Homo sapiens: one gene and its partners. The protein of the gene in region 1 purifies or fractionates together with the protein of each later gene. This does not show direct contact. Each region holds a gene or a part of one and is shown in the gene's direction. Other genes may lie near its edges.

Region 1 (3,961 bases):
CAGGGTCTGTCTGGCTCATCTCAGCCCTGGGGATGGTTGTTGGGGGGTGGCATTCCTGGGTAGCAGTTCAGTGGAATGACTTTGGAGGCACAGAGGTTACCGCATGTGATTCTCATCACACACATAGATGCTGGGAACTTCTGAAGGTGAAGGCTGTTGCAGGGTGTTGTTAGACGGCTCCCCAGCTCCTGGATCAGCTGGCGGGGGGTTGGGGTGGACAGCAGGCTACTGAATCTGAGGCCCTGTGGGAGAAGCAGGTCAGGGAAGATGAGGGTTTGTCCATGGACCTAGCTGTTGAGGTGTCTCTAATGCCTGGGCATGTCTCAGGTGCTGCATTGTGGCTGAGGCCCAGGAGAGCCAACAGCTTTGTACTTGGATTCGAGGCTGTTTCTTTTGCTCTGGCTGTTCTCTGCTGACACTACCTGGAAAGGCACAGGTGTGTGTCTGACCTACATTCCAAGGTGCTGAGAGCCAGCCTTGGATCAGTCAGGAGCTGGGCTGAGTGACTGTACCTGGGCTTCCCAGACCCTTCCTGGGGCATGGGGTTGGGAGACCAGGAGAACCCTGGGTGGAGTAGGTCAGAGTCCCTGTTTCCTACCCCTTTCTGATGCTTTGGGAAATCTACGCCCAGATGATGTTCCATGCAGGAGGCAGCTCTTTCCTGTTGATGGGCCAGATCAGTGGCTCCCTCCTGGGACAGCGCGGGAAGGAGGAGATGGGCTACTTTCCCATGGGGAAGCCGAGGCAGGACCCTTCACACTCCTGCATCTGTACTCATGCAGCACAGACGTGGGGAAGTGCTAGCCCTGCACAGAGGGGGTGGCATCTGGGCAGGAGTCCATCTAGCTTCGTCTAGAACATCCTGAATGAGTGGCTGCCACTCTAGGCCTTGCAGACCCCAATGACAGGGAGGTCATCACCTCCACAGGCTGCCCATTGGAACAGGTGGTGGCTGGGAAGTCCTTTATGCTGAGTTGACCTCTGGGTCTTGGTGGCTATAGCCCTTGGTCAGCATGAGGACTGTCCAGAGCCTGTGCTGGGCGGTCATGGAGCATCATGGGTGGTTTGCTGAGTGCCCTTCCCATCTTTGATCTCATGGACAGGGGGACCCACAGGAGGGGGCTCCACATGTCCTGCTAGATGGGGCTGAAGGAGGCAACTTCTGAGTAGGAGATGAAGAGGCAGGGACTGGGGCTCACAGGTCTGACTCCCACTTGGCCACCACCTGGCACATGAGGGCAGGCTGACTTGATTAGGAGGTGGCTGGCCCCTGGCCTCAGAGAGACCCTCCTCTCAGGCTCTTAGGGTATCCTGGATGATGAAGGCTTTGCAGGTCCAAGCGGCTGTGATCCAGGCACCCTTTGGCCCTGGAGAAGCATGGCTTGGTGTGTCCTCTGGGCAGACCTGCGTAGTGCTTAGAGGTCCAGGGAAGCTGGGCTGAGACCCTGGATCCTGGGAGCTCATGGCCTCAAAGGCAGCAAGTCATGGTCATTGTGATGCAAATGTGGGCAGGGGACACAGGGAATGGGTCATGGGCACAGATGACCCTGTGGCCAGAATGGGGATTTTCCAAGGCTGGGCTGTGAATAGGTGGCCAAATGGGACTGTACCCAAGCCACCCCACCCATCTTCCTGGCCTCAGGTCAGGGCAGGTGTGAGGGGGGATGGCGAGAGCCTGGCTTTCACCCCCTCTGCTTTTGCAGGTACTATGAGAGTTTCACCAACTGCACCGAGATGGAGGCCAATGTCGTGGGCTGCTACTGGCCCAACCCCCTGGCCCAGGGCTTCATCACCGGCATCCACAGGCAGTTCTTCTCCAACTGCACCGTGGACAGGGTCCACTTGGAGGACCCCCCAGACGAGGTTCTCATCCCGCTGATCGTTATACCCGTCGTTCTGACTGTCGCCATGGCTGGCCTGGTGGTGTGGCGCAGCAAACGCACCGACACGCTGCTGTGAGGGTCCCGGTGAGATGGAGTGGGTCACACCTGGCAAGCTGGAAGAAAGTTCCCTGGGGATGGGAGAGCGGGTGGGTGCTGCCAATCTCCAGCTACTGTGGCCACACCCCACCTGGTCATGGGCAGACCCCTCCCTTCCTGGGCTGACCTGCTCCCTCGAGGCCAGCCTGCTCCCTGGCTGAGGCTCAGGCTATCCGCCCAAGCTCTTTGCTCATTCTAGGGCCAGTGGAGGAAAATGTGATAAGGCCAGAGCTTGTGTGCTGGGCACAGAAATCACCTGCTGCATCCTGTGCTCCGCAGGCTGGGCCGGAGCCTCTGCCCGCAGGTTTCTATGCTGTTTCTTAGCACAGAATCCAGCCTAGCCTTAGCCGCAGTCTAGGCCCTGCTTGGACTAGGACTCCTTGCTTGACCCCATCTCTGGTTCCTGCCCTGGCTCCTGCACCAGCCCCAGCTCCTGCCTACATCCAGGCAGAAAGATAGGCAGGGGCTCTTGGAAGACGTTCCGTGCTGTGACCTCCGAGCCCTCCTGGTGGGAAGACAGCTGGAAAGGCTGGGAGGAGAAGGGAGGGGCTGGGGGTTCCCAGGAGCCATGCGTGGCCTGCAGAGTCCATTCCATCATGATGCTGTGCCCGCTATGGGCTGTGTCCATGACCAGAGGCTGGAGTGGGGGTGTGTTAGAGCCCCTCACCGGGACTTGCTGTGCGGATGGGGCCTGGGCCTCCTTCCTACAGGGGCTCCTCTGTGGGTGAGGGGCCCTCTGGAATGGCATCCCATGAGCTTGTGGCCTCTATCTGCTACCATCTGTGTTTTATCTGAGTAAAGTTACCTTACTTCTGGAATTTCCTGTTTTGTTTCATGTTATTCAGAGAGACGGTGCATCTCTTGGGACTGATGAGTCCCCTGTACATATTGTACAGATAGGGAACAACTGAGGTTCTGGAATCCCAGAATGTCAGCGCTTAGGGGGCTCAGAGAGTGTTACAATAGGAGAGGGGCCTGACAGGAGGAGGGACTTGCCTAGCTACTCGCAGCCCCTTGGGCACTTCCCATCCCTGACCCATTGGTTTGAGGATGACAGGGAAGATTTCTCTCTCTTCTGTTTTCCCTTTGCAGCTGCCTTGGGCTTGCTAGGACCCCTGCCTGGGTTTTCTGGGGACCGAGAGGCCCTGGTCAGGTCTGGCTGGAGGCAGATGCTGGTCCTGGGGGGTCCCTAGAGCAGGTGGAGGGGCTTTATCTCCAGGCCTCTGGCCAGGCCCTTGTCCAGGCTCCAGTTCTGTGGACCTGTGTCTTTTGCATGTGGGCTGTTGGATCCAGGATCTTCTTGCTGGATCCCAGGACCCCTGTGAGTGGAGGCAGGCACGACCCTGGTAGTTCCTCTGCCTTTAGAGGCCCAGCTCCCCTTCAATGCCCAGGCAGGCAGGTTCTGGCACTGGGGATCTGCATGGTGGATGCCACTGGACCGGAGGTCTGGGTGGGTGGCCTGAGCCTGACCCCATTGGGGGCACAGTGTAGGGGACAGAATCTGAGTCTACTCCATGTTCTTGGGGCAGCCTTGGCCGGGCATGAAAGGTTGCGATCCCCATCACCTGAGCCTTGGCCAGCTATCTCTGAGATGGGACACCATCTGCCCGATGAGGTGACTGTGTGGAGACAGGGAGGTCAGCGTGCCCACAGGTGTCAGGCCATCTGGCCTGCAGTGGTGGCTCTGTGTTCAGTGGATCCTGGGGTCTCTCATGGGGCCTCTGTGTAACTTGCTCCCTCCAGCCCATTCCGATTCCAGAACCACTCTGCACTGGGTTCCTGGCTGCTATGGTAGAGGTGCAGCCCTGCCCCTTGGCTAGTGTTAGGCACCCCCTGGTTGTGCATCCCTGAAGAAATGCTTGAAATGTGCTGAGGGAACCCCCCAACAAGGGGCTGGGACACCTGCAGCTACCTCCTGGGTCCCCTGGAACCCAAGCCCTGGAAGCTGCTCTGAGTAGGGAGTGAGCCTGGAGTCATGCTCT
Region 2 (3,582 bases), on another chromosome or scaffold:
TACCCTAAAACTTAAAGTATAATAAAAATAAATAAATAAATAAATAAATAAATAAAATAAAAAATAAAATAAATAACCATACCTTACGTGGTTGACAGTTGTTTGACTACCTGATACCACTTTTGTTGCATTTTTGGAAAGCAGCCTTCTCTAATGATAACCTTGCTATAATTTAAAGTTATTTTCCTTCCCTTGGCATAAATTGAGGTTATAATACTCAATCAAATGATATTCCAAGGGAAATTGTTCTGATTTTAAGCTTGATTTCAGAACATTGTAACATTTTAAGAAGGTAAGTGTGACTTAAGAGCCGAGGAACCTTTAGATCCTCTTGGTTTCTCTTTTTTGCCTCAAACAATATTAATTTATTAAACATCAGGCTTTTTCCCATGGCCCACCCTCTACATAAATTATAATTCAGGTCTGAGCAGTCATCTCTTTGTTATCTCCCTATAACTCTCGGGCTTTAAAATTATTGTAGTTCTCTTAAAGTAAGTCACTTATATTTCTTAGTTTCTGTTAAGCCGGTGAGCAACCCTTTTTGTTATGAGTGCAATGCCCCCCTTTCTAAAACCGATTATAGAATTTAATAGACCTGCGTATTTAACACACAACAAAGCTTCCTGAATTGATTTTTGTTGGGAAAATTACTGGGATTAACAATCTGTGACTTTTCTCACAGAGTGATTTTCACTAAGCAATTGAAATTTTGAATTTTAATAGGCTTTACTTGTTCACTACTTTATAAGGAATACATTTATATTATTCTCTTCACTTTTCCTTTTCCCTATTCTTTTTCTCCTTTTCTCTCCAGAGGGCAGAATCAGCCTGTTTTGAATATCACAAACAAACAGGCTTTCATTACTGCTCAGAATCATGGCTATGCCTTGGACAACACCCTCCCTGCTGGCTGGAAACCACTTTTTGTGAATGTCAACGATCAAACAAATGAGGTAAATGATGTCAATAAACCTGTTCAGTTGGTGATGAGAAACGCAGGGCTTTTAAAAATAATTGATACATAAGCATTGTATATATTTATGAGATACATGTGATATTTTGATACATGCATATCATATGTAATGATCAAATCACACTAGGATAACCATCACCTCATTTTTTATTTCTTTGTATTGAGAACATTTCAAATCTTCTCTTCTAGCTGTTTTGAAATATGCAATAAATTATTCACTCAGAATATTCACCCAGAGTTTTTAAATACACTATGATGCAAATACCTTTCTCCTGTTTGTTTGTGATTTTTTTGGGGTTGAGTGTTGAAAAACAGCTATAGGTTTTCTCCCATAGCCCTCTGTGTTTTAAAACGTCATTTCTCTCTCTTATTCTCTCATCAGTTGACTTGTTAAGATTCACTATTTGAGTTATTAATCAACAACTATCTCATATATTCAATGTTAGTGGGCTGTTGGTCCAAATCTGTTTGAGCCCCATCTGGGTGGGTCTCTGGGACTTACTTGGCACTGGTGTAGTGTTTGAGAAGACCCTTGGAAAAGTAATTTCGGACTTGGGGATAAGATGAGGACTTGAGTTTACTCTGAACAGAACCCAGAGGGGTCCCAAAGACTATAGACCAAATTTTTTATTTATTTATTTATTTTAAAGGAAAACACATTCAGTTGAGTCTTCATTGACCCATTTTCCATACTTAATCAAAAAGGTCAGATATGTAAGTCCTTAAGATATCGGACCATGTTACTTAATAGTACTGTTAGTTACAAAAATTTTGTTAAGCATCTAACTCAGTTTTTAAATTTGAGCTTTATTGTTCCCTGAATAATACATAGCCACACTTGACATTCATTGTTACAGAAGGAATTTCTTCCTGTTTCTTATTCCTTTAGGGGATTATGCATGAGAGCAAACCCTTCTTCGCTGTGCAGTTCCACCCAGAGGTCACCCCGGGGCCAATAGACACTGAGGTACGTCAAAAAGATGAGGCCTATTATGTATGCAAAAAAAAAATGTATTTGTGTGGAAATTCGAGAAACCAAAATAATCACCCCAGATGATCTTGAGCAGAACATTCTCAAGAAGAGTGCTTTGGTAACACACATTTTGTATTAAAATCTCCCCATGAATGTCACAGAGGAAATTTTTATCTTTTTTAAAATTTAAAGTGGGAAAGCCCTTAAGAAACCCGAAGCGATGGTATTTTTATTTAAACCCATTATCATTCTAATATATTTAGTTCTGAAATTTACAATTGTTGTACTATGCAAATGAATTCCCTTTTGCTCTCTCTCGTTCTCATGACTGAAATGAAATTTTAATCCCCCATCTGTGACTTCACAAAAATCCCTATGGCAACTGGTTGTGTAGCCACTAAGGGAGAATAAACAGCAGCAGGAGAAGGAGGGGAAGGGTGTTGGAGGGGAGAGAGGGCATGCATGCACATACATAGATGATTCAGACGGCTTCAGAAAAGAACCACAAGGAATGCTTAGAGGAGTTTTGTATTTAATCTAAATATTTTTACTTTTTTGTGTGTGAGCTCTTAGTTCATTGTTCAAACCCATCTTTCCAAATAAATTCTTCTGGTGATATCCAGAAAAATCTGAAGTCTATTGTGACTTCCCCACACCCAGGGGCCTCCAGTAGCAAATCTTCATTGTCAGAACTCTCAGAAAAGACTTCGAGGTAAAATGGGGAAGAGAATAAGAGCTTTCTTTCTGCAAGCTCTGCTCTACTCTCTCATGTCTGAATTGCCGTTTTAGATATTTATATTTTGTTCTTGTTTTAATATTATTAGGAAATATTGGTTCTTAATAGCCAAAATCAGTATTATATTACCAACCCATGATGAAACTCATAAATCAAATTTAGTTATGTGTATCATCTAACACATGCTAAGTAGTTTTTTAATTTAAAATTTAAATTAGCATATATTAGTACTTCGGATTAGGAACATTGCAATTAAGATGTAATAATATCCACTGTCACATAATTCTCCTTTTTTGTCTTTCCAATAATTGCAAAATGAATATTCTTTGTTGTAATTTGTCATATCTAGTGAAACAACAGAAGTAAATCCTTTGGCAAAGATTAAGAATAATCTTCAGAAACTGTTTTTTAGAGCCGATAGAAATTTAAATTTAAATTAGTATTTCTAATTTTCTATATCATAAGTGATATAGCTTCAATTGTTATATCCACCTAGAATTTGATTTAGAAGAAACAAATGATATACAATTTACTAAAAACTTGGCATTCTCAGAAGGTATCTGATATGTTTACTGCTTGTTGGAAACTTCTTTTTTATAAGACTTGAAGTGAACAGAAGTGTTTATTTGATTAAATTCTCACACTAACAGATATTTAGTTATTGACAAAAAAGCAAAAAAAGCTGAAATGCTATAATAAAAATTATTTGTTGCTTATCTGAAGTTCAAATTTAACTGGGTATATTGTGTTTTATCTGGTGAACTTAGGAATTTTGAAGCTTCTAACTAGTTGGTTGTATTTTTTTCTAGTACCTGTTTGATTCCTTTTTCTCACTGATAAAGAAAGGAAAAGCTACCACCATTACATCAGTCTTACCGAAGCCAGCACTAGTTGCATCTC
Region 3 (4,501 bases), on another chromosome or scaffold:
TGGCTCACGCCTGTAATCCCAGCACTTTGGGAGGCTGAGGCGGGCGGATCACGAGGTCAGGACATTGAGACCATCCTGGCTAAGACGGCAAAACCCCTTCTCTACTACAAAAAAAAAAAAAAATTAGCTGGGTGTGGTGGCGCCCGTAGTCCCAGCTACTCAGGAGGCTGAGGAGAATGGCGTGATGGCGTGAACCCGGGAGGCGGAGCTTGCAGTGAGCCGAGATCCCACCACTGCACTCCAGCCAGGAGGACAGAGCGAGACTTCATCTCAAAAAAAAAGAATTTTTATCATCTTTAAAAAATGTTAAATTGCTCTCCTTGGTTGTTAGGACTAGAAGGGACTTTAAAGGTGTTTTTTATTTTTAGGAACAGGGTCTCACCTTGTTGCCCAGGCTGGAGTGTAGTGGCACAGTCATAGCTCACTACAGCTTTAAACTCCTGAGCTCAAGCCATCCTCCTACCTCAGTCTCCTGAGTAGCTCAGGACTACAGGCCTGAGCCATGGCACCCGGCTTGAGGTAGTTATTTTATAGAAGAGGATGCCACAGCTCAGAGAGTTTAAGTTATTAGCTCAAGATGACTTAGTTGGTTAGATACAGAATGGTTCGTATTATGAAGGTCTTCTATTTATTTATTTTTTGAGACGAAGTTTCGCTGTTGTTGGCCCAGGCTGGAGTGTAATGGTATAATCTCAGCTGACCGCAACCTCTGCCTCCTGGGTTCAAGCAATTCTCCTGCCTCAGCCTCCTGAGTAACTGGGATTACGGGCATGCCACCACGCCCAGCTAATTTTGTATTTTTAGTAGAGATGGGGTTTCTCCATGTTGGTCAGGCTGGTCTCGAACTCCTGACCTCAGGTGATACTCCCGCCTTGGCCTACCAAAGTGATGGGATTACAGGCGTGAGCCACCGCGCCTGGCCTATGAAGGTCTTCTAATTCCCGGTTGTTGTTTTTTATTTTTTTCTCATAGAATTAATTTACAGACTTTAAAAGCTTCTTTATTGATTAACATTGATAGATATGATACCCAAATGTTACCTATTTTTCTTATTTGGCTACAAAATCAAAAAAATACTATATAAATCTTTCAAAATGTTAAATGTTAAAAAGGTCTCAGAGTAAATGTGGAGACTCTTTGCAGAAAAAAATGTATGTGTTTTATAGAGAAAGTTGATTAGTTTCAGTTTTCCTGGTTATCGGATGACTGTGATTTAGACATTTGTGAGCACTTTCCTGGGAGTGGCCACTCTGGTATCCTTGAAAGGCACTCCCGGCGCAGTGCTTGAAGACCACAAGGCGCCTTACCCAGGCAGTGGGTGAGGGTGCTTGGAAGAAATGCTTTCCAGTTAATGACTGTTAGCATGAGAACCATTTGTTCTAGTAATAAGCAGTCATTCAGTATTCAACGCTTCTCTTTAGAACATTCACTGACTGTAGGGTCTGCTATGGACGGTGTCTGTATTTCTGAGAGGGGCTGGTGTTATCAGTGTTCATAAGGATATTATTCAGAATTTTATTGCCTGTTTTGACTCCACATAATCAATTTTTTCCCTACTGATTTAAAGAAATAATACAATCTTTTTTAAATCAATAATATTTAAGAGTTTTATTTTTATTTATCTATTTATTTTTTGAGATGGAGTTTCTCTCTTGTTGCCCAGGCTGGAGTCCAATGGCGTGATCTCAGCTCACTGCAACCTCTGCCTCCCGAGTTCAAGTGATTCTCCTGCCTCAGCCTCCCGAGTAGCTGGGATTACAGGCGCCCACCATCACACCCAGCTAATTTTTATATTTTTAGTAGAGACAGGGTTTCACCATGTTGGCCAGGCTGGTCTCAAATTCCTGACTTCAGGTGATCTGCCTGCCTTGGCCTTCTACAATGCTGGGATTACAGGCATGAGCCACCGTACCCAGCCGACTGCATATTTAAATTGGTAAGGTAGAAAATGAGCATGAGAGTCTAACAGCTGATGGATATGGGAACATAATACTTGATAAAATCATTCAGAATATGTTTGATAAACAAGAAGATTGTATAAAACCTGCACTGTCCTACTAATGTAAAGCATTTCTCCTCCCTCACTTTATTCTCAACCTTACAACTGCCAGAAATTATATAATCTTGAATATATTTGAGAAACTCTTTTTAAAATGAATCTTGTAACTAATTTCTTTTTTGAATTTATATATATAAATATATACATACTTATTTTATAATAGAGACAGGGTCTTAAAATGTTGACCATTGAACTCCTGGGTTCAAGCGATCTTCTCGCCTCGGCCTCTCAAAGGGCTGGTACAGCGTGAGCCACCGTGCCCGGCCATTGTAACTAATTTCACAGGGCAGATAATCATCCTTTAAACTGTTTGAAAAGATTTGAGTGTTACTGTTTCTGGTTTTCACACTTTTCCATCTTTTCTAGGATCCACGTAGGTGGAGGAGATTCCTCTCCACAGTTTGTTAAGCTACATTCTATGTTGTTAAGGTCTCCCAGCCCTTCTGGACTGGCACTAGAGGCTGTTGGGGGTGAAAAAGTACAGCTGTTTGTGTGTCATACTGCCTCTGGTTCAGAAAAGAGACGGACACTGACTCTTCACTATTAATTTTGCCAAAGTCTCCTTGAAAGAATGCTAATTTGTTCCTGGCACTGGGCAGGGTTCCTGCCTTCCAAGTCTTGTCATGTGGTGGTTACTTGGCTGGGGTAATAGTGAGGCACCCCCTCCCCACCCCCACGTATGGTCCCCACCGGGCAGCTTCCTATGCCAGTCACTGATATTTGTTCTCATGTTGTTTGCCCCAACAGTAGGGATGGCATTGAGCCCACTAAGTTGACTGACCTTTTGAAGAAAGTTAAACTTTATGGTGTTATTTTGAGTAGGCAGTCTGTGGTGCAGAATTTGTAGGCAGCAAAGGGTATTCTGTGAAGTTTCCTTTCTCCCGCCTGCCTCTCCCCAGGGACAGCCTCATGCCACACTGTGGTTCTCATGAGCACTGCTGTCTGTGTGGAAGGACCTGACCTGTCCTACCAAAGTCAGACATCTTTTTGATTTGTTGTCTTTGGCAGAAGCTCCTTTGTATTAAGGTCTCCATAGGGCCAGCTTGGGGCTTCTCTGTAAAGACTTTGCTGAGGTTTTGAGAGTTCCTGGGACTTGGGATTTACGGGCAACACTCTCTGCCCCTGGGTCTCTGATGTGGAGAGGATGTCTGCCATTGACACCGAACCCCTGAGTGGGCAACTCTCAGAGCCATATCTCCACAGTCCATGCCTGGCTAGTCCTGTGGTTTCAGTGGTCTACAAGACATTCCTAGGTGCATGCCCTTCAGTCCACACAAACTGACTTTGTCTCAAATCTGAATTCTCTCATTCTACTCTTACCACCCTCCTTCAGTTTCTTTCTTCTGCGATAAAATCCCAGATGACTCGGTTACTCAGGCTTGAAATCTCCTATTCCTTTGTTCCCGTGCCCAGGGCAGGATGCAGATTCTAACCAGGTGTGACTTGGAATCCTTATCTGTTTGTTGTTTGTTGTCTGTTTGTTGCTCTTGGAGACTTCAACATTTCAGGACTGCAGTATTGTAAATGCCTGCAGTATCCTAAATCCGAATTCCTTACCTCTCCTGGAATCCTTATCTGTCTTTTACTCTTTGAGATTTCCCAAATTTCAGGATTTATTGCTTGCCTTATTGTAAACCCTGTGAATTGAGCTCCCTCCTGTTAGGATTTGCTCTAGGTCCCTCCTAATCCATCTTGTTCTTTGTATCTTTCAGGAGTTCTGAAACTGCCCTAATAATTATTGGGGGGGTGGGGTGGAGTGATAGAATTCTGGCTCTTTTTCATAATGCTTAAACTTTAAGATCCTTTGTAGTCTTCTGTCTCTCATTTCCTTCCAATTCTTGTTTTAGGTTCAGGGGATACATGTGCAGGTTTGGTACACGGGCAAATTGCACATTGCTGAGGTTTGGTGTACAAATGATTTTGTCACCTAGGTAGTGAGCATAGTACTAGATGGGTAGTTTTTCAATCCTCACCAGCCTCCCACTCTCCACCCTCAAGCCCTGGTGTCTCTTGTTCCCCTCTTTGTGTCCATGTGTAGCTCCCAGTTCACTCTGCAAGTGAGAACATGTAGTGTTTGGTTTTCTCTTCTTGCATTAATTTGCTTAGGATAATGACCCCTAGCTGCATCCATGTTGCCACAAAGGATATGATTTTATTCTTTTTTATGTAGCCTTCTCTCTTAACTGGCCTTTCTCCCTGCTTGGTGCCTCTGTGTCATGGATCTTGATTCTTGCTCTTTCCTACCTCTGAAATGTGTTCTTTCTGTCACCCTCCCTCATTTCTACCCTTTTTTTTTTTTTGAGATGGAGTCTCGCCCTGTCGCCCAGGCTGGAGTGCAGTAGCGTGATCTCGGCTCACTGCAGCCTCCGCCTCCCAGGTTCAAGCAATTCTCCTGCCTCAGCCTCCCTAGTAGCTGGGACAACAGGTGCTTGCTACCACACT
Region 4 (4,929 bases), on another chromosome or scaffold:
TACTGTATGAGAAAGAGACAGTTTAAGGGTCAGTCCAATGGAAAAAAGAGTTCTCAGAGCTTTCTTTAGCTTATTCTCATCAAAGAGCTTTCTCTGCAGAAGGAACCTACTGGTTCCTCCTTTCCAGTCCTAGAAATCCTGACCTAGAGTGGCTTAATCCTGCTAGCACCTCTCTCTCGCACTCTGGTGCCAAATGACTCCAGGAACTGGGCCATGATGTGGTGGGAATGACCTTACCCTGAGCATGTCACTCATGCATTGAACAACAGCTAAGAGCAGAGCTTAGAGCTTAGAGCTGGGCCCTGTAAGGTGAGAGGAATCACATCCTGCAGAAGTCTGTCCTGAGAAGCAGGTACTCCTGTCACAGCAGAGACACAGTGGATACCTGAGTAACAATAATACAAGACAGGACGTGGGAACAGCAAAAGATTTGGGTGTCAGAAGAGGCCGAGAACACTTCAGGCAGGAACATTCAGAGTTGTTCTTGGAGGAAGTAGGCACGAAGGCTGGGCAGGATTTCACGGGGCAGAGATGGAGCAAGCAATTGAAATGAAAGCCATGGCATGGGAAAAGGAGCACTGGCCACAGGGAGTGCAACGTTGTGATGCAAGGCCACTGTGGAGCCATTGCTAGCGTATTAACTGCAAAGTTTTGAATTGAATCAGAAGGGAATTGGAGGCCTCCAGACTAAGCATTTAGACACTTGAGGGGAATATTGACAACTGGGCCTCGGGAAGATTATTCTGGAAGATATCTTTACAATTACAAGATTGGAGCCTTTGGGAGAGGGATGATGTTTACGGGAGGATGGTATGTGTGCTAGTGTGTGTGTCTGTGTGTGGCTCTTGGACCCAACCTGACCACCTACTATCTAGAAGGTGAAGGACAACTAGAAAGTTTTGCTCAATTCCATCTTCTGCCACCACCAGAATGCCACCTCCCTGAGGGAAAAGGTTTTTGATCCTCAGTCAGGATTCTCAGCACCTCTTATCCGATAGCTTTGGAATGAATGGCAAGGCCTTCATAACAGCCACTGCAACTGCTGTCTCCTTTCCTTTGCTACCCCTCCCGCTCCAGCCATGCCAGCTTCCCCCAAGCCCTCCTGCGCTCCAGGCCCAACCTCCAAAGCCAGCAACTTGAACAGGAGTCCTCTGGCTTTGGAAAGGGGGCGGCTTACGTTTTCCTGCTCATGTTTCCTCCCCAGCAAAATTGCCCTCTACATAGAGAGGCCTCTCCTTGTGGACACCAGCAAAGCCACCGACCTCAGTGACAAACCCCAGGGAATCTCCCCAAGGAATCTCAAAGCGAGAGAGAGAGAGAGAGTCTTGAGAGAGAAAGAGAGAGAGAGAGAGTCTTGCTTTCGAACAAAGAAAAAGGAAATAAAAAGACCCGATAATCTCAAAAGGTTATTTGCTGCTTGAAATTTGTGATTCGGTGTATTCTACCCAGCAACTGCTGAGAAATAAGGTTCGACACCATTGGCTGGTTCACTCACACCCGGCCAATCCTGGGCTCTAAAATACTTAGGGAACTCTTGGGACTGTGGAAGCCCAGGAGACCAGATTTCGTTTCCTGCATCTCCAAACATGGCGACCTAGGAGAAGGGGAAGAACAATTTTTTCTCCTCTTTTGGGAAGGTTTGTGTCTAGTAGTGCCTGTGCCCCTGGGCAGATTGGAGAGAAGAGGGACGACTGGAGAATCGTCGAGAACCAGCGGAGAAAAGAAAAAGCAACGTTTAATTCTAGAAGGTAGGAAACGGAGGGGAGGCGCTACAGCTCCGGGGTGGGCACAGTAGGTGGGGGAAGCGGGGTCTGCTGTGGACACGAGACGGGGTCCTGGGACAGGGAAAGCCCACCGGTGGGGAGGCGCGGCCTCGCCTGTCTTTGCCTCAGGCTGCCCGGCCTGGGTCGCGGGGAGGAGGAAGTGAAGGGAGGAGGGTGTGGTAGAATCCAGCGACAACTGAAGAAACTGCATTCTGGCCAGAGAAGTGAGCCGAGGAGGGCGGAAAAAGGCCCCCTTGATCTTGGCATTGATGGCTTACTTCATGGAATGTTTAAGGAATCCCTCTCTCGGGACATACCTGAGCCTTCGGATGCAGGGGACTCCCTGAAGTTGGGGCACTGATGAGACCTACTTGAGTGACGGGAGAGGTTGGGCCCGACCAGCACTGAGGTGCCAAGACTCCTAGGCTGATTCTCCTCTGTAACCCTAGGCCTCCTGTCCCTGCCTGCTCTGGGTGCTCATGGAATCAGCTGCTGCCCTGCACTTCTCCCGGCCAGCCTCCCTCCTCCTCCTCCTCCTCAGCCTGTGTGCACTGGTCTCAGGTAGGGATGTGTGCCACTTGCTGCTGTCACCTATCAGAAAGGAACATCAACCCTGTAGTCTGCAAAGGGAAAGAAAGAAGGACTGTGGAGTTGTTGACTTACCCTTTCATTCTGAACATGTTCATTGAATTTATACCAGCACTGTCCAAAAGGAATACAGTGAGGCACAAAGGCCGAGTGCATGTACAATTGCAAATTTTCAAAAAAAATTAAATTTTACTTTTTATTTTAAAAAGTAAAAAGAAACATGAAATAAATTTGTATACTATATTTTGTTTCGCCCCAAATAATCAAATACGAATATTTAAATACTTAGTTAATATACCATATTACCAATGAGATAGTCAACATTTTGAAATTTTAAATCTTCATAATCCTGTGTGTATTTTACACTTACAGCTCATTTCAGTTGGAACTAGCTAGTGGATATGTGTCCTATTGCACGGCTCAAGTTTACAGTACACTCAGGCACAGCACTAGATTGGGAAATCGAGGAAAATCCCCTCAAGGGCACAGGGTGGACAGAGGGTGCTCAGGGCAGGTTCCTCAGGGTTTCCTTCATGAAGCAGAAGCACACTTTATAGTTACTGCTCCCAGGGGTGCTGTCGACTAGCCACAGCTACTGGTCCCCAGATTTCTCAGCCCAAAGAGACCCTATGGCCATGGAAAAAATAAGTTTGTCCCTAGAATATCTGCTTCCTTTCTTGCCTTAGAGATGTGATGGCTGGTGTCTTTGTCTGACTCTACCCCTTTGTTGAACAGCCCAGTTTATTGTCGTGGGGCCCACTGATCCCATCTTGGCCACGGTTGGAGAAAACACTACGTTACGCTGCCATCTGTCACCCGAGAAAAATGCTGAGGACATGGAGGTGCGGTGGTTCCGGTCTCAGTTCTCCCCCGCAGTGTTTGTGTATAAAGGTGGCAGAGAGAGAACAGAGGAGCAGATGGAGGAGTACCGAGGAAGAACCACCTTTGTGAGCAAAGACATCAGCAGGGGCAGCGTGGCCCTGGTCATACACAACATCACAGCCCAGGAAAACGGCACCTACCGCTGTTACTTCCAAGAAGGCAGGTCCTACGATGAGGCCATCCTGCACCTCGTAGTGGCAGGTGCGTCGCTTCATTTTGCTTTGTTACTTTGGCACAGTGTGACTTTGGGGAAAGTTTCTCTCCTAACCTCAGGCCCATTGCAGACCAGCAAATTTTTGTCTGGACTCCCTTTTCCACTCTCCCTGTGGAAACGGAATTCCAGGGAAAAATCCTTCCTCCTGCACAAGGGACACATGAGTGGGTTTGCCCTGCTAAGCTAAGGGCTTCACTTCTTGAGAAGCACATGCAGAATTCAGCTGAGGCCGTGAGCAGGGGAAAATGGTCAGTCTCGGAAGAGAAGTCTTATACCTGCCTTAGGATTGAACTGTGCACTTCTTTTGGGTTTTTTTTTTCTTTTTGAGACAGAGTCTTGCTCTGTTGTACCCTCGCTGGCACGATCTTGTCTCACTGCAACCTCTGCCTCCCAGGTTGCACTTCTGAGAGTGAGAGGAGACACTGTCAATAATTGTTCCAAGACAACTGGAATAAACTGATTACCCAGAGAACTACAACATATCAAATCTTATTTCTTGATAAATATTAATCTTTACTTCATCTTTCCCAAAATGCTGATTGCAGAGAGAGTGACTTATTGTAAATAGATGGTTTTATTAAACCAAGACGAAATACAGAAGCAAAATTATATATAGTTCCTGCTAACTCCATAGAGAAAGACTACGAATTTTGCTGGGAGGTAATAGGGAAGCCTTCCACATAAAAATGCATTTAAACTGGGATTTCTAGGAATTTGTTAAAATGACATTAAGTGATTACTTCAGTTTTGGGGTTAGTGTATTATGCTTTAAAAGATATATTTGGGCTGGGCGTGGTGGCTCATACCTGTAATACGAGCACTTTGGGAGGCAGAGGCAGGTGGATTACTTGAGGCCAGGAGTTCGAGACCAGCCTGGCCAGCATGGTGCAACCCCATCTCTACTAAAAATACAGAAACATTAGCCAGGCTTTGTGGAGTGTGCCTGTAATCTGAGCTTCTTGGGAGGCTGAGGCACAAGAATTGCTTGAACCCAGGAGGCAGAGGTTGCAGGGAGCCGAGATCTTACCACATCACTCCAGCCTGGGCGACAGAGCAAGACTCTGTATCAAAAATTAAACAACAACAAAAAAGATATATTTGAGGACTGAAAAAGCCTTTAAGGTGCAGGATAATCTGTGGTGGCATTTCACTCCATCAGACCAGACAGAGGAGGTGAGGACTAGGGAATTGGGTCTTTCCCTGGGGGCCTCAAATCATAACAGGTAGGAGACCCCATCTTTGCTACACACAAAGGCAACCTTGCATCTGATTAAAGCAGAATATCATGGAAGGAGGGTTTCTTGACCCTGCATCATGACTGTGTTCATAGCAGCACTCCAGGGTTGACCAGTTATGGTTTCTGCGCGGCAGGAATCTGCCATTCTTTGCCTATAAAACTGACAGTGGCCTGGCCTTTCCCACTCTGAATTGGATTGCTTAGGACTTTTTGTTTGTTTGTTCATTGTATTCTCTTTGTTAGGT
Region 5 (4,501 bases), on another chromosome or scaffold:
TCTGTGTGGAGAATGGATACAAATTATTTTGTTGACTGATAGAAAGTAATAGCCCAAAGTAGTATCCTCTGAAGTTGCTGTAGTTTGTGTGTCACCTTTTCCAGAAAGGTTGAATTTTGTGGCTTTGAATTCTGTCTGAGAGTAGGAGTCTTGGCTGTTTTTGGACTGTAGAGTGAGAATAAATTGAGATGGTGATGATGCAGGCCAAGTGGAGGTTCATAGAAGTTGATATTTGCAAGACGCTACTGTGTTTCTCATCTGTTATTTTTGCCCCATAGGTTTAACTTCTTTATTCAACAAAAATGCGGATTCAGAAAAGCACCCAGGAAGGTTGAACCTCGAAGATCAGACCCAGGGACAAGTGGTGAAGCATACAAGAGAAGTGCTTTGATTCCTCCTGTGGAAGAAACAGTCTTTTATCCTTCTCCCTATCCTATAAGGAGTCTCATAAAACCTTTATTTTTTACTGTTGGGGTAAGAGCTCACTTTGCTAGGAGTTACCTACCTTGCTAGAAATGCAGTGTTAAAGTACTTTGTCCCATTTGGGCTCCCTTAAAGTAAGGACAGGTAGAGGGGGGATCAAAAAGAGCTGGGCTCATGAATTCTAATTATAGAGTCTGAATTTTTTTTTTTTTTTTTGAGACGGAGTCTCACTCTGTCGCCCAGGTTGGAGTGCAGTGGCGCGATCTCGGCTCACTGCAAGCTCCACCTCCTGGGTTCACACCATTCTCCTGCCTCAGCTTCCCAAGTAGCTGGGACTGTAGGCACTGGCCACCACGCCTGGCTAATTTTTTGTATTTTTAGTAGAGACGGGGTTTCACCTTGTTAGCCAGGATGGTCTCGATCTCCTGACCTCATGATCCGCCCGCCTTGGCCTCCCAAAGTTCTGGGATTACAGGAGTGAGCCACTGCGCCCGGCCTAGAGTCTGAACTTAAAAATTGCTTTTATTATTAAATTCTGGCTTACTTATGTAAGCCCTAGAGAATAAACATATGGGCCTTGTTTGGTACAGCATTTCAAGCGGTGCTAAGTTGGTATTTTCAGTTTTATTTGAGGATTTATAGCTGGAAACAGGCCCCAGGGTATTGTGAAGTTAATACAATGGGAAACAATAAAATGTCCTTTTTGGCCAGGCACAGTGGCTCATGCCTGTAATCCCAGCACTGGAGGCCAAGGTGGGTGGATCACCTGAGGTCAGGAGTTCGAGACCCCTCTGGCCAACATGATGAAACCCCGTCTCTACTAAAAATACAAAAATTAGCCGGGCCTGGAGGCAGGTACCTGTAATCCTAGCTACTCCAGAGGCTGAGACAGGAGAATCACTTGAACCTGGCAGGCAGAGGTTGCAGTGAGCCCATATCGCACCATTACAGTCTGGCCTGGGAGACAAGAGTGAAACTCCATCTCAAAAAGAAAAAAAAAAGCCCTTTTCACTTATTAGGTTTCACTGTGCCAAGTATTCCCTTCTGTTGGTTTGTAAAAAGCAATGACAGTGAAGAATTCTCCTTGGAAATAATGTATAGATCTATTTCCCTCTTAAATCTATTTTGTAATATATCTAATTTTATATAGTTTACAGGCTGTGCATTTGGATCAGCTGCTATTTGGCAATATGAATCACTGAAATCCAGGGTCCAGAGTTATTTTGATGGTATAAAAGCTGATTGGTTGGATAGCATAAGACCACAAAAAGAAGGAGACTTCAGAAAGGAGGTAAAGATAAACACTGCTTTCTTTCTTCTAGTTAATCACGGTTTTAAAAAACTGATACTTAATAGATGCACGTGTTTTCAGTGTACATGATGCATTCACATAATGTGTAATAATGAAATCTGAGGAACTGAATATCTATCACCTTAAACATTTATCTTTATGCTAGGTATATTTGAATTGTTCTCCACTAGCTATTTTGAAATGTACTATAGATTATAGTTGACTGTAGTTACTCTACTGGTAATCCCAGGTTTTGAAGCCTGGTTATTTATGAAGTGCTTTTAGTTAATGGCAACATCAGATTAATAGATGTCAAGTCAGTGCACTTAATATTCTTCACAGTAAGTATTGATTACTGTTTTATATATCTGGTGTTGTACTTAACAGTGTTCCAGAATTCTGTCCCTCTACCCACATGCATCAAAAATCACCACGGATAGTTGTTAAAAATGTTAACGTTGGCCGGGCACAGCGGCTCAAGTCTATAATCCTAGCACTTTGGGAGGCCAAGGCAGTCAGGAGCTGGAGACCAGCCTGGCCAACATAGTGAAATCCCATCTCTACTGAAAATACAAAAATTAGCCAGGCGTGGTGGTGCATGCCTGTGGCCCCAGCTACTCAGGAAGCTGAGGCAGGAGAATCGCCTGAACCCAAGAGGCAGAGGTTGCAGTGAGACGAGATTGTGCCACTGCACTCCAGCCTGGGTGACAGAGCGAGAACTCATCTCAAAAAAAAAAAAAAAGAAAAGAAATTAATGTTAATAGTTGTTAATGTTTCTGCGTGGAGGATGTCTCAGCTCTACTAAAGTTTAAGGATCTCAGTGGATCTCAGCTCTACTAAAGTTTAAAGGCCACTGTTTTACTTGGATCACCTTGATGGATTGCTTTAGAGCAGCAGTCACCAACCTTTTTGGTACCAGGGACTGGTTTTGTGCAAGACAATTTTTCCACAGGTCGGGGTTGCAGGGGGGCAGATGGTTATGGGATGAAACTGTTCCACCTCAGATCATCAGGCATTAGATTCTCATAAGGAGCGTGCCACCTAGATCCCTCACATGTGCATCTCACAGTAGGGTTTGCATTCATGTGAGAATCTTATGCAGCCACTGATCTGACAGGAGGCAGAGCTCTGGTGGTAATGCTCTCCCACTGCTCACCTCCTGCTGTGTGGCCCAGTTCCTAACAGGCCACGGACCACTAGTGGTCAGCAGCCGGGTTGTTGGGGACCCTGGCTTTAGAGTACGTATTTGAACTGCAGGGAATTTTTCAAAATATACATGCCTTAGGGATAGAGCTAGCAAGTGATTTTTTTTTCTAAGAGACAGCGTCCCACTCTGTCACCTAGGCCTCAGTGCAGTAATGGGATCATAGCTCACTGAAGCCTCAAACTCCTGGGTTTGAGCAGTCCTCCCGCCTCAGTCTCCTGAGTAGCTGGGACTACAGGCGTGTGCCACCATGCTGGGCCAATTATTTCATTTTTTGTGGAGACAGGAGTCTCACTTTGTTGCCCAGGCTGGTCTCAAACTCCTGACCTCAAGTGATCTCCCACCTTGGCCTCCCAAAGTGCTGGAATTTCACAAGTGTGAGCCACTGTGCCTGGCCCCAAGAGGAGTTTTAAACGTTTCTCAGTGACATGATATTTACACACCTGTGGTAAATACCTGCTGTTGAGTGTCTCTAAACTGTGCTCGAGATGAAATACGGAAAAAAAAAAAAAAAAAAGAAATATGGAGCTTTTAGAGCTTTTCATTTACTTTATATGCAAGTCGATGGCCCTCTTTCTTAACTGATTTCTTAAAAATGTTTGCTTTTAGATAAAACATGTATTTTGTTTCTTTTTTTTTTTCTTTTGAGACAGAGTCTCACTTGTTGCCCAGGCTGGAGTGCAGTGGCGCGATCTCTGCTCACTGCAAGCTCTGCCTCCCGGGTTCACGCCATTCTCCTTCCTCAGCCTCCGGAGTAGCTGGGACTACAGGTGCCCGCCACCACGCCCGGCTAATTTTTTGTATTTTTGGTAGAGACGGGGTTTCACCGTGTTAGCCAGGATGGTCTCGATCTCCTGACCTCGTGATCTGCCCACCTCGGCCTCCAAAAGTGCTGGGATTACAGGCATGAGCCACCGAGCCCAGCCAATATTTTATTTCTTTTATTCACCAATACATATTGAACACTGAGATTTTAGTTAATATGTGGTTTCAGGCCCATTTGGTTTTCAAGCACTTCTGTTTTTTTAATGACACATTGCCCTTCCAATCTGGAGAGTAGGTTGATATCTTCTTTACTTTTCCCCTTCCTTGGAACAGTGTGATCCTGGCCAGCAAGAGCCTGAGAAGGAAGCCTTGCATTTTCTTTTTGCTAATGATGTTTTGAGTTTTCTCTAAGTAGGGAAAGGGATTCATTCCTCCTTGTTTTCCCATGGGCACATTCAAGAAGCATGAGCCCTATCTGTGTTAGAGAGGCTTTATGCCAGAACAGTGGATAATATTTGCAGGTGAAAATGACAATAACTAGCCATCGGCATCTGTTCAGTCAATGTATTTGAGAAGATAGTAAAACTGACCTATTCCATTATCCTGGATCTCTTACAAAGCTATAGGTTTCCAGCACATGTCTGCACATGAAGTTTTGATATCCAAATGTACCCAAATGGTTCTTGAGAATGGTGAAAAATGATACAAACAGTATACATAATCTTCATTTAAAGATTGATTTGTTTATAATATAATTAAATGATAAGTTGAATGTATAAAACCTATGCCCATTAAAGAAGTTTGAAACAATGTGTAAA
Region 6 (4,501 bases), on another chromosome or scaffold:
TTGTAAGAAAGTGAGAGTACTTCTCTCAGAGGTATAATTTTAAAGTGTGATTTCTGTTGTAGAGTTGAAGATCATATTTTTGAAACATAGAGATTGTTTTAAAAATGTAGAAACAATGTTATAGTTTCCTAAGATAGTGTTCTGTGAAGAGAGGTGGTTCATGGAAGCTTTGTTCCTCCAAATAGTTTTGGATGAAGGACTTTTCCTCTGTTCCACTCAGGAAAGTGTTCCTACTGAAATTTCATTGTCTTTCTGGAACAAATAAAATATTATTGTTTAAAAGGTTTTTCCTTCAGTTGAAAATAAGATTTTGTTGAGTAATACTGTGTGTGATGATTAGTTTTATTATGTCAGCTTAGCTAGGCTATAATACCTAGTTATTTAATCAGATACTAGTTTGGTTGATGCTATGATGGTATTCTGAAGACGTGGTTAACATCTATAATCAGTTGACCTAAACTAAAGGATATTACCCTAAATAATGTGGGTGGACCTCATTCAATCAATTGAAGGCTAAAAAAGCCAAAACTGAAGTGTCCTGAAGAAGACAGTATTTTCCTCAAGACTGCAGCATCAATTCCTGCCTAAGTTTCCTGTCTGTAGATCTACCCTACACATTTTGAAGTTGCTATCCCCTACAGTTGTGTGAGCCAGTTCCTTAAAATACCAATATCTCTGTATCTGTCTATATGTAGATGAAGATATTTATGTTTTTATCTACATCTATATATTTTTTCCTATCAGTTCTGTATCTCTGTAGAGCCCTGACTGATTCAAATTTGGGTGCTGAGAGTGCTTCTAGTGAGCAGAATCTTAAGGATGAGTTTTCTGAATTGATTATAGTGTTTCTGGAATTGGTTTTCCAAACTGATCAGATTCAAAGGCAGTAATGAGTATTCCCTGTAGAAAAGAGGGCACTGATAGTCCCTGGTGTGATATGGCAACAAAGATATGCAAAAGATCACTATTAGATACTCCCACTCATGCTTATAGACAAGATTCAGAATGATCAGGTATTTGATACCTTAGAACATTTTAATCGAATTAATGAGTACAATAAGATAGGCTGGTTGCTTTTAACTGTACTGGGTAAAGTGAGAAAAGAAAAGGATGATCCCAGCTACTCAGGAGGCTGAGGCAGGAGAATCGCTTGAACCCAGGAGGCGGAGGTTGCAGTGAGCCGAGATTGCACCACTGCACTCCAACCTGAGTGACAGAGTGAGACTGTCTCAAAAAAAAAAAAAAGAAAGGAAAGAAAAGGGGAGCTTAAGGCTTCAAATTCCCGATTGAAGCTCCACATAAGTGACCTGAAAAGTTTCTGTGTCTGCCCTAAAGAAACCCGTATCTCTTGTAGCTACAGAGCTGAGGTTGGTGAAAACCAAATCCAGAGTCTTATCCTGTAGGTGGCTGAATTACAGTGCTAACTGAATTCCCTTCTCACCTTGGTCTGCTATTAAAATGAGGGCATTGATTGGGAAGGAATGGGATCTGCACATTTGGAATAGGGCCATATGGGAACATCCTGATGAAGCTGGGGATGTTAAACTCCTAAATTTGACTCACTCTTTTTTGCCAGTAGAAGCAGTTCTTCCACCTCTGAGGAGGTTAACTCTGCTTTGCCTGAAGAACCTGTAATGACCTCCCTTGAGGTAGTTACCTTGCAAGACATTGCCGGTTTTCCTCAGGAATCCGTGAAGAGCTCTGGGGTTGCTTTTCTCTTCAGGTCAGAGATTGCAGTGGGAGCTGTTGCCACTGACTGGGGGTCCTTAGCTGCAGCAGGGATGGTTGGATCTAGGATGGCAGGGGCTATGTGATCACCAAAGAGTAAGTAGGTGTGTTGCCATCATGGGGGACAGCGGAGTCAAAGCAACAATCTGAACAGCCTGACTTGGGGGTCCTAATTGGGTAGGTGGTCATGGTGTCCCTAGAAGAGAACTCGTTGGGCAGTCTACTGAATTCTGACTTGATCTCTATAAGCAGAAGAGTTCTAGGTCAAGTGAATGGAAGCTTTACTTTAATTACCAAAGAAAGAGTCATGGTCCCTCAATCAGTTCCCAGATTTGAGTCATTTTACAGACTCAGAACCCCCTGACTGAGGGGAGGCTGGATCCTTTTGAGGAAGGACCCCATTGCGCTGCTAAGAATTTATACCGTTAATTTTTTTCTCAGGTTTCCCAAAGGGACCTATGGCTTATCAGGGTAAGTGTGCACTGGAGAAGAGGAAATAATTAGACTTCTCACAGATTACTGAACTCTTAAGTCTGAACTGACACTAATTCCAGGACACTCAAAGTGTCATTTTGGCCCGCCATTCAGAGTAGGGACTTGTTGAGGTTAGGTGGTCAATGGAAGTTTAACCCAGGTTCTCCTCACAGTGGGTCCCCATATTCATCCTATGGTTACTTTGCCAGTTCCAGGATGCATAACTGGTATAGACATACTCAGCAACTGGCAGAATCCCCACACTGGTTCCCCGACTTGTGGAGTGAGGGCGATCGTGGTAGGAAAGGCCAAGTAGAAGCCACTAGAGCTGCCTCTTCCTGGAATAATAGTAAGCCAAAAGCAATACCGCATTCCAGGAGGAATTGCAGAGATGAGTGCACTTAAGGATGCAGGGGTGATGATTCCTGACATATTCGCATTCAACCCTCCTGTTTGGCCTGTGCAGAAAACAGATTGATCTTGGAAAATGACAGTGGATTATCATAAACTTAACTGAGTAGTGACTAATTGCAGCTGCTGTTCCAGATGTCATTTCATTACTTGAGAACCTATCCCCTAGTAACTGGCATGCAGTTATTGATCTGCTGAGTGCTTTGTCTTAGTATCTGTTAGTAAAGATCACCAAAAGCAGTTTTCTTTCAACTAACAAAGCCAAAAATACACCTTCACTGTCCTACCTCGGGAATGTCAACTTTCCAACACTATGTCATAACAAGATCTCTGTGATCTTGTTATGAGTTGAATTGTGTCTTCTAAAAATTTATGTATTGGATTCCTAGCCCTTAGTACCTCAGGGTATGACCTTATTTGGGAATAGGGTAGTTAAAAATGTAATTAGATAAGATGAGGTCATACTGGAGTAGGCTGGGCCCCTAATCCAACACAACTGGTGTCCTTATAAACAGGAGGAATTTGAACACAGACATTCACACAGGGAGAATGCCATATGAAACTGAAGTAGAGGAACACCAAGAAATGTCACACATTTCCAGCAAACCATCAGGAGCAAGGGGGTAGGCATGAAACAGATTCTTCTTCACCCCCTTTGAAGGAACAAACCCTACTGACACCTTGATCTTGGACTTCTAACCCCAGAGCTGGAGACAGTACATTTCTGTTTTGTAAGCTCCTCAGTTTGTGGTTCTCTATTACAGCAGCTGTAGCAAACAAATAGAGACCCTGATTGTGCTTCCCTTCCACAAAACATCATACTGGCCCATCACATTGATGACATTATGCTGATTGGACCTGGTGGGCAAGAAGAAACAACTACTCTAGACTTACTGGTATGACATTTGCATGTCAGAGGGTGGGAAATCCAACAAATATTCAGGGGCCTTCCACCTGTGAAATTTCTAGGGGTCCACTGGAGTAGTGTAGGGCATGTTCCCACCTATAACAAAAAGAGAAGCAAGGTTTAGTGGGCCTCTTTGGATTTTGGAGATGACAAATTCCTCATTTGGGTGTGCTACTTCAGGTTGTTTACTGAGTGACCTAAAATACTGCTAGTTTTGAGTGGATCCCAGAACAAAAGGCGCCTCTACAACAGGTACAGGCTGCTGTGCAAACTGCTCTGCCACTCAGGCCATATGACCCAGCAGATCTTCTGGTGCTTGAAATGTCAGTGGCAGATTGAAATGCTGTTAGGAACCTTTTGCAGGCCCTATAGGAGATACAGTGTAGAACCTTAGGATTTTGGAGCAAAGCCTTTCCATCCTTTGCAGGTAACTGCTCTTTTAAGAAACAGCTTTTGGGCTTGCTACTGGGCTTAATAGAAACTCTACGCTTAACCGTGGGCCACCAAGTTATGCAACCTGACTAGAAAAATGACTAGAATATTTCAGCAGTTAAGAGCACAAGCAGATGGCATGTGTTCAAATCCTGGTTATGTTATATTTACTAAGCATGTCATCCTTGAGTAAGTGGCCAAACTTTGTGTTTTGATTTCCTCATGGAGCGATTTTATAGAATAAATGAGATGATACAGTGCTTAGCACAGAACCTGCTAATTTTTAGCTTCTCTTAACACAACTGAAACTGCTACTGCAATGTCTTGTGAAGTCATTAGTCCATGCCTTTAAATGTGATTGTAGAATTTTTTTGCCTTGGTACAGCAGAAAAAATAGAGTGATTTTTTTTTTTTTTAATTCATGTAAACCAGAGCAGAAGTTTGAAATAGTGAACAGTCTTGTAGGCATTATGTGCTTTCAGGTTCTGAGTTTATTACTTCTGAGAATTAACCATAGTAGCAGTGGTCTATGACCTCTGTGGGTGAAAG
Region 7 (3,433 bases), on another chromosome or scaffold:
AATTCTCAGAAGCAGCAGCTGGGCCAGCCCCTGCCCCGTCTCCGTCCGTCTCCCACTCAGCGGTTCCGTGTTGTCGAGTTAGCTCGTTGCCCCGCGCCACCTCCTTGCACACCTGATGTGGGGCTGTGGGGGAGCAGCAGAGGTGAGGACAGCCTCTGCTGCCTCAGCATCGTGGGGTTCTCATTGCTCTGAACCCTCAGTAGCTGTCGCTGGTGTGAGGGGTCAGCGCAGCGGCCATCGGGGGTGAAACTTGTCCTTCGCCTCTCAGCTGTCTTCTACGGGCCTTGTCTTCTTGACTCCCTGCCTGTCTAGTCATGTATGAGAAGACACTTCCCGGCAGTGTGTGAACAGGCACCTGTGGTGGGAACGCTGCTGTCTCTGGGCTGGCCATCTAGAGTGTTAGGATCCCCTGTTGTTGTAGAGGATGCTGCACATTTGCCTTCCTGCTTTGAGACGCTTTAATGACGGAGACCTCTTAGTCCCACACCTTCCTCCTCAAAGCCCACGCATCCTGCCTACTGACCTGGGTCATCTTGACCTTGTGCCAGGTCTCCATAACCCCTCGGACAAACGCCGCCCTGGGCTTTGCTCAGATGCTCCCCAGAGACCAGCACCTCTTCACCAAGGAGCAGCTGTTTGAGCGGATGTGCATGGCCCTGGGAGGACGGGCCTCGGAAGCACTGTCCTTCAACGAGGTCACTTCTGGTGAGGAGCAGCGGCGCGGGCCCTGGAGGTTTCAGAGCGCTTTTCCCTGCATGACTCCTTCTGTTCCAGTGCATGCCATGGGGTGAATCTGGTGTAGACGTAGCTTTGAATTTATTAAGTATTTTGTAAAAGATAAGTTGTGGTCATAAGAGAGTTGGAGCTAAGCAAGACTTCTTAGATAATTTAATTGGACAAAAACTTAACCTATATGCCAACTCTAGACACATTTAATTGGTTAATTGTTGGTAATGGCTACAGGAAACGGAATAAAATTGAAGCGGCTTCATTGTTCTGAAGCCATTACTGCACTGGGATATCCAGAGAGCTGAAGGAGGGTCCCGGGGGCCCCTGGGCTCCAGGTCCATGGGTTTGCCTCGCATAGGCCTGGGCTTGTGCTTGAGAACTGCCATGCAGTGAGCTCCAGTATGCCCCCGGGTTCTAGATTTCCAAATAAAAGAGCATTTCGGAAAGTTTTAAGACTCTCTTAAGGAACAGTGGTGAGGTGCCAACGTCCTCACTGTCCAGCTTCACGGTGGGTCCTCGGGAGGAAGGGGATGGAGGTGGTGCTGCCTCAGTGCTCTGACCGGGACACCTGGGGCCCAGCACTGCTCTGCGCCTGCAGTGCTGAGGATGCCTCTGTCTCGACCCCGCCCTCCAGGGGCACAGGACGACCTGAGGAAGGTCACCCGCATCGCCTACTCCATGGTGAAGCAGTTTGGGATGGCACCTGGCATCGGGCCCATCTCCTTCCCTGAGGCGCAGGAGGGCCTCATGGGCATCGGGCGGCGCCCCTTCAGCCAAGGCCTGCAGCAGATGATGGACCATGTGAGTCGGCTCTGGCCACACCGCTGCCCTCTGTGCTCCCCGGGGAGGGAGTCCCTGGGTCTACCACACAAGGGTCGCCCACGGCCGCCCCAGCGGAGCTCAGCTGCAGGCCCCACCTGGGTTTCTTCCTTCTGGGCTCTGCTGTAGTTCCCACCTGTGGAGTATTTTCTTCTCAAATGAGGACATAGATGCTCCTAATGAAATTATAGATGTGAATCTGGGAAGAATATCAAATAAATACACCGAGCAATAGACCCAGGGCCCACATGTCCTTCAGACTGGGCCAGGAAGGGCCGATGTGTGCCTGTGAGGCAGCTGTGGGTGGGTGTGGGTGGGTGGGCTGGCATGCGGAGCCCTGCTTTCCTGGCACTGGTCACAGGGGCAGGAGACCACCTGTCGGCTGAGGAGTCCTGTTCCTCCTGGGAGGGGAAAGGCCGTGTTCCCAGTCTGCCATTTCTTTTCTGTGCTTTGGTGCTGGAGCCAGGCGGCCAGCCTTGCCCCTGACACAGTTCCCTCCACTCACAGGAAGCAAGACTGCTGGTGGCCAAGGCCTACAGACACACCGAGAAGGTGCTGCAGGACAACCTGGACAAGTTGCAGGCGGTGAGGCCCTGGCCAGGCGTGGGGGCTACGGCGTCACACAGTGTCCACACAGCACCCACGGTCCCCACCCCTCTCGTGAAGTATTTCCAAGGCACACAGAGTACAGAGAACACTCTGACCGATGTGAATTCTACCCAGCTCAACTGAAACTTACGTGTTCCATACTTTTTATCCTGAACTCGTCAAGTGTGTTCCCCCGAGGTAGAAAGAAGGCTGCCACAGTCTCCTGTGCCTCTTCCTGCCATTAGCAATTACCAATGTTTTGTCAGTTTTGTTTAATCTTTTCCCAAGTCTTACACTTTTTTCTTGAACATTTTTTTAAAACAAAGCTTTAATTTTAGAGTAGGAATTTTTTTTTCTTTTTTTTTTTGAGACAAAGTCTTGCTCTGTCACCCAGGCTGGAGTGCGATGGCGACATCTTGGCTCACTGCAACCTCTGCCTCCCGGGTTCCAGTGATTCTCCTGCCTCAGCCTCCCGAGTAGCTGCGACTGCAGGCATGCACCAACACACTCGGCTTTTCTTTTTTTTTTTTTTTTGAGATGGAGTCTCTCTCTGTCACGAGGCTGGAGTGCAGTGGTGCAATCTCAGCTTACTGCCACCTCCACCTCCCCAGTTCAAGCATTCTCCTGTCTCAGCCTCCCAAGTGTCTGGGATTACAGGCACGCGTCACCATGCCCAGCTAATTTTTGTATTTTTAGTAGAGGTGGGGTTTTACCACATTGGCCAGGCTGGTCTTGAACTCCTGACCTCAGGTGATCCGCCTGCCTCGGCCTCCCCAAGTGTTGGGATTACAGGCGTGAGCCACAGCCCCACGCTGATTATAGTGTTAGATGTAGAAAAGTTGCAGGCGCGGTGCAGAGAGCTCCCTGCCACCCTGCCTCGCTCCCGTGGAGGCCCCCATGGGGCAGTCCTCCCACCTGAGGAGCCCCCGCCGACCCGCGGTGTTGGGTCCACACGTGATTCAGATGTGCTGAGTCTCCCCAGTGTCCTTTCCGGTCTTGGGAGTCCACATGGCGTTTGATCGCCCATCTTCTTAGGCTCCTCTGGGGTGACAGTTCCTCAGACCTCCCTTGTTTTGAGGGCTCTGGCAGTTTTGAGGATTGGTCTCATGTTTTGTAGGACGTTCCTCAGTTGCGATTGTCTGATGTGTTTCTCACAGTGGGCAGAGCTGGAGTGAACGTTTTTGTCCCTGGGTTTGGTAACTGCTGCTTAGAACTCAGGAGAGGTGCACGGCTCTTTGTCCCATGTTGTGAACAGATGGGTAGGCAGTGGATAGGTAGTTGTTTCTTCAGCCTCCCC

The links.
Region 2: the proteins of RAMP3 (region 1) and CPS1 purify together in Homo sapiens (co-immunoprecipitation; 2 studies listed by BioGRID and IntAct, with this or other methods). This does not show direct contact.
Region 3: the proteins of RAMP3 (region 1) and CDS2 purify together in Homo sapiens (affinity purification with mass spectrometry; one large-scale study listed by BioGRID and IntAct). This does not show direct contact.
Region 4: the proteins of RAMP3 (region 1) and BTN2A1 purify together in Homo sapiens (co-immunoprecipitation; 2 studies listed by BioGRID and IntAct, with this or other methods). This does not show direct contact.
Region 5: the proteins of RAMP3 (region 1) and PARL purify together in Homo sapiens (co-immunoprecipitation; 2 studies listed by BioGRID and IntAct, with this or other methods). This does not show direct contact.
Region 6: the proteins of RAMP3 (region 1) and FAM210A purify together in Homo sapiens (affinity purification with mass spectrometry; one large-scale study listed by BioGRID and IntAct). This does not show direct contact.
Region 7: the proteins of RAMP3 (region 1) and SPG7 purify together in Homo sapiens (affinity purification with mass spectrometry; one large-scale study listed by BioGRID and IntAct). This does not show direct contact.

Annotation. Positions count from the first base shown.
Region 1 is NC_000007.14:45,181,454-45,185,414, forward strand, and holds the end of RAMP3 (receptor activity-modifying protein 3 precursor), read left to right. Parts: intron 1-1,703; coding exon 1,704-1,959; 3' UTR 1,960-2,797; downstream 2,798-3,961. UniProt on the Homo sapiens protein: Accessory protein that interacts with and modulates the function of G-protein coupled receptors including calcitonin gene-related peptide type 1 receptor (CALCRL), calcitonin receptor (CALCR) and G-protein coupled estrogen receptor 1 (GPER1).
Region 2 is NC_000002.12:210,591,017-210,594,598, forward strand, and holds part of CPS1 (carbamoyl-phosphate synthase [ammonia], mitochondrial isoform b precursor), read left to right. Parts: intron 1-814; coding exon 815-953; intron 954-1,862; coding exon 1,863-1,940; intron 1,941-2,338; exon of another isoform or gene 2,339-2,658; intron 2,659-3,491; coding exon 3,492-3,582. UniProt on the Homo sapiens protein: Involved in the urea cycle of ureotelic animals where the enzyme plays an important role in removing excess ammonia from the cell.
Region 3 is NC_000020.11:5,132,903-5,137,403, forward strand, and holds part of CDS2 (phosphatidate cytidylyltransferase 2), read left to right. Parts: intron 1-4,501. UniProt on the Homo sapiens protein: Catalyzes the conversion of phosphatidic acid (PA) to CDP-diacylglycerol (CDP-DAG), an essential intermediate in the synthesis of phosphatidylglycerol, cardiolipin and phosphatidylinositol.
Region 4 is NC_000006.12:26,456,395-26,461,323, forward strand, and holds the start of BTN2A1 (butyrophilin subfamily 2 member A1 isoform 1 precursor), read left to right. Parts: upstream 1-1,560; 5' UTR 1,561-1,748; intron 1,749-2,212; 5' UTR 2,213-2,242; coding exon 2,243-2,324; intron 2,325-3,086; coding exon 3,087-3,434; intron 3,435-4,929.
Region 5 is NC_000003.12:183,863,838-183,868,338, reverse strand, and holds part of PARL (presenilin-associated rhomboid-like protein, mitochondrial isoform 1 precursor), read left to right. Parts: intron 1-278; coding exon 279-474; intron 475-1,573; coding exon 1,574-1,714; intron 1,715-4,501. UniProt on the Homo sapiens protein: Required for the control of apoptosis during postnatal growth. Essential for proteolytic processing of an antiapoptotic form of OPA1 which prevents the release of mitochondrial cytochrome c in response to intrinsic apoptotic signals.
Region 6 is NC_000018.10:13,719,594-13,724,094, reverse strand, and holds part of FAM210A (protein FAM210A), read left to right. Parts: intron 1-4,501. UniProt on the Homo sapiens protein: May play a role in the structure and strength of both muscle and bone.
Region 7 is NC_000016.10:89,552,431-89,555,863, forward strand, and holds part of SPG7 (mitochondrial inner membrane m-AAA protease component paraplegin isoform 1 precursor), read left to right. Parts: intron 1-548; coding exon 549-705; intron 706-1,363; coding exon 1,364-1,530; intron 1,531-2,055; coding exon 2,056-2,133; intron 2,134-3,433. UniProt on the Homo sapiens protein: Catalytic component of the m-AAA protease, a protease that plays a key role in proteostasis of inner mitochondrial membrane proteins, and which is essential for axonal and neuron development.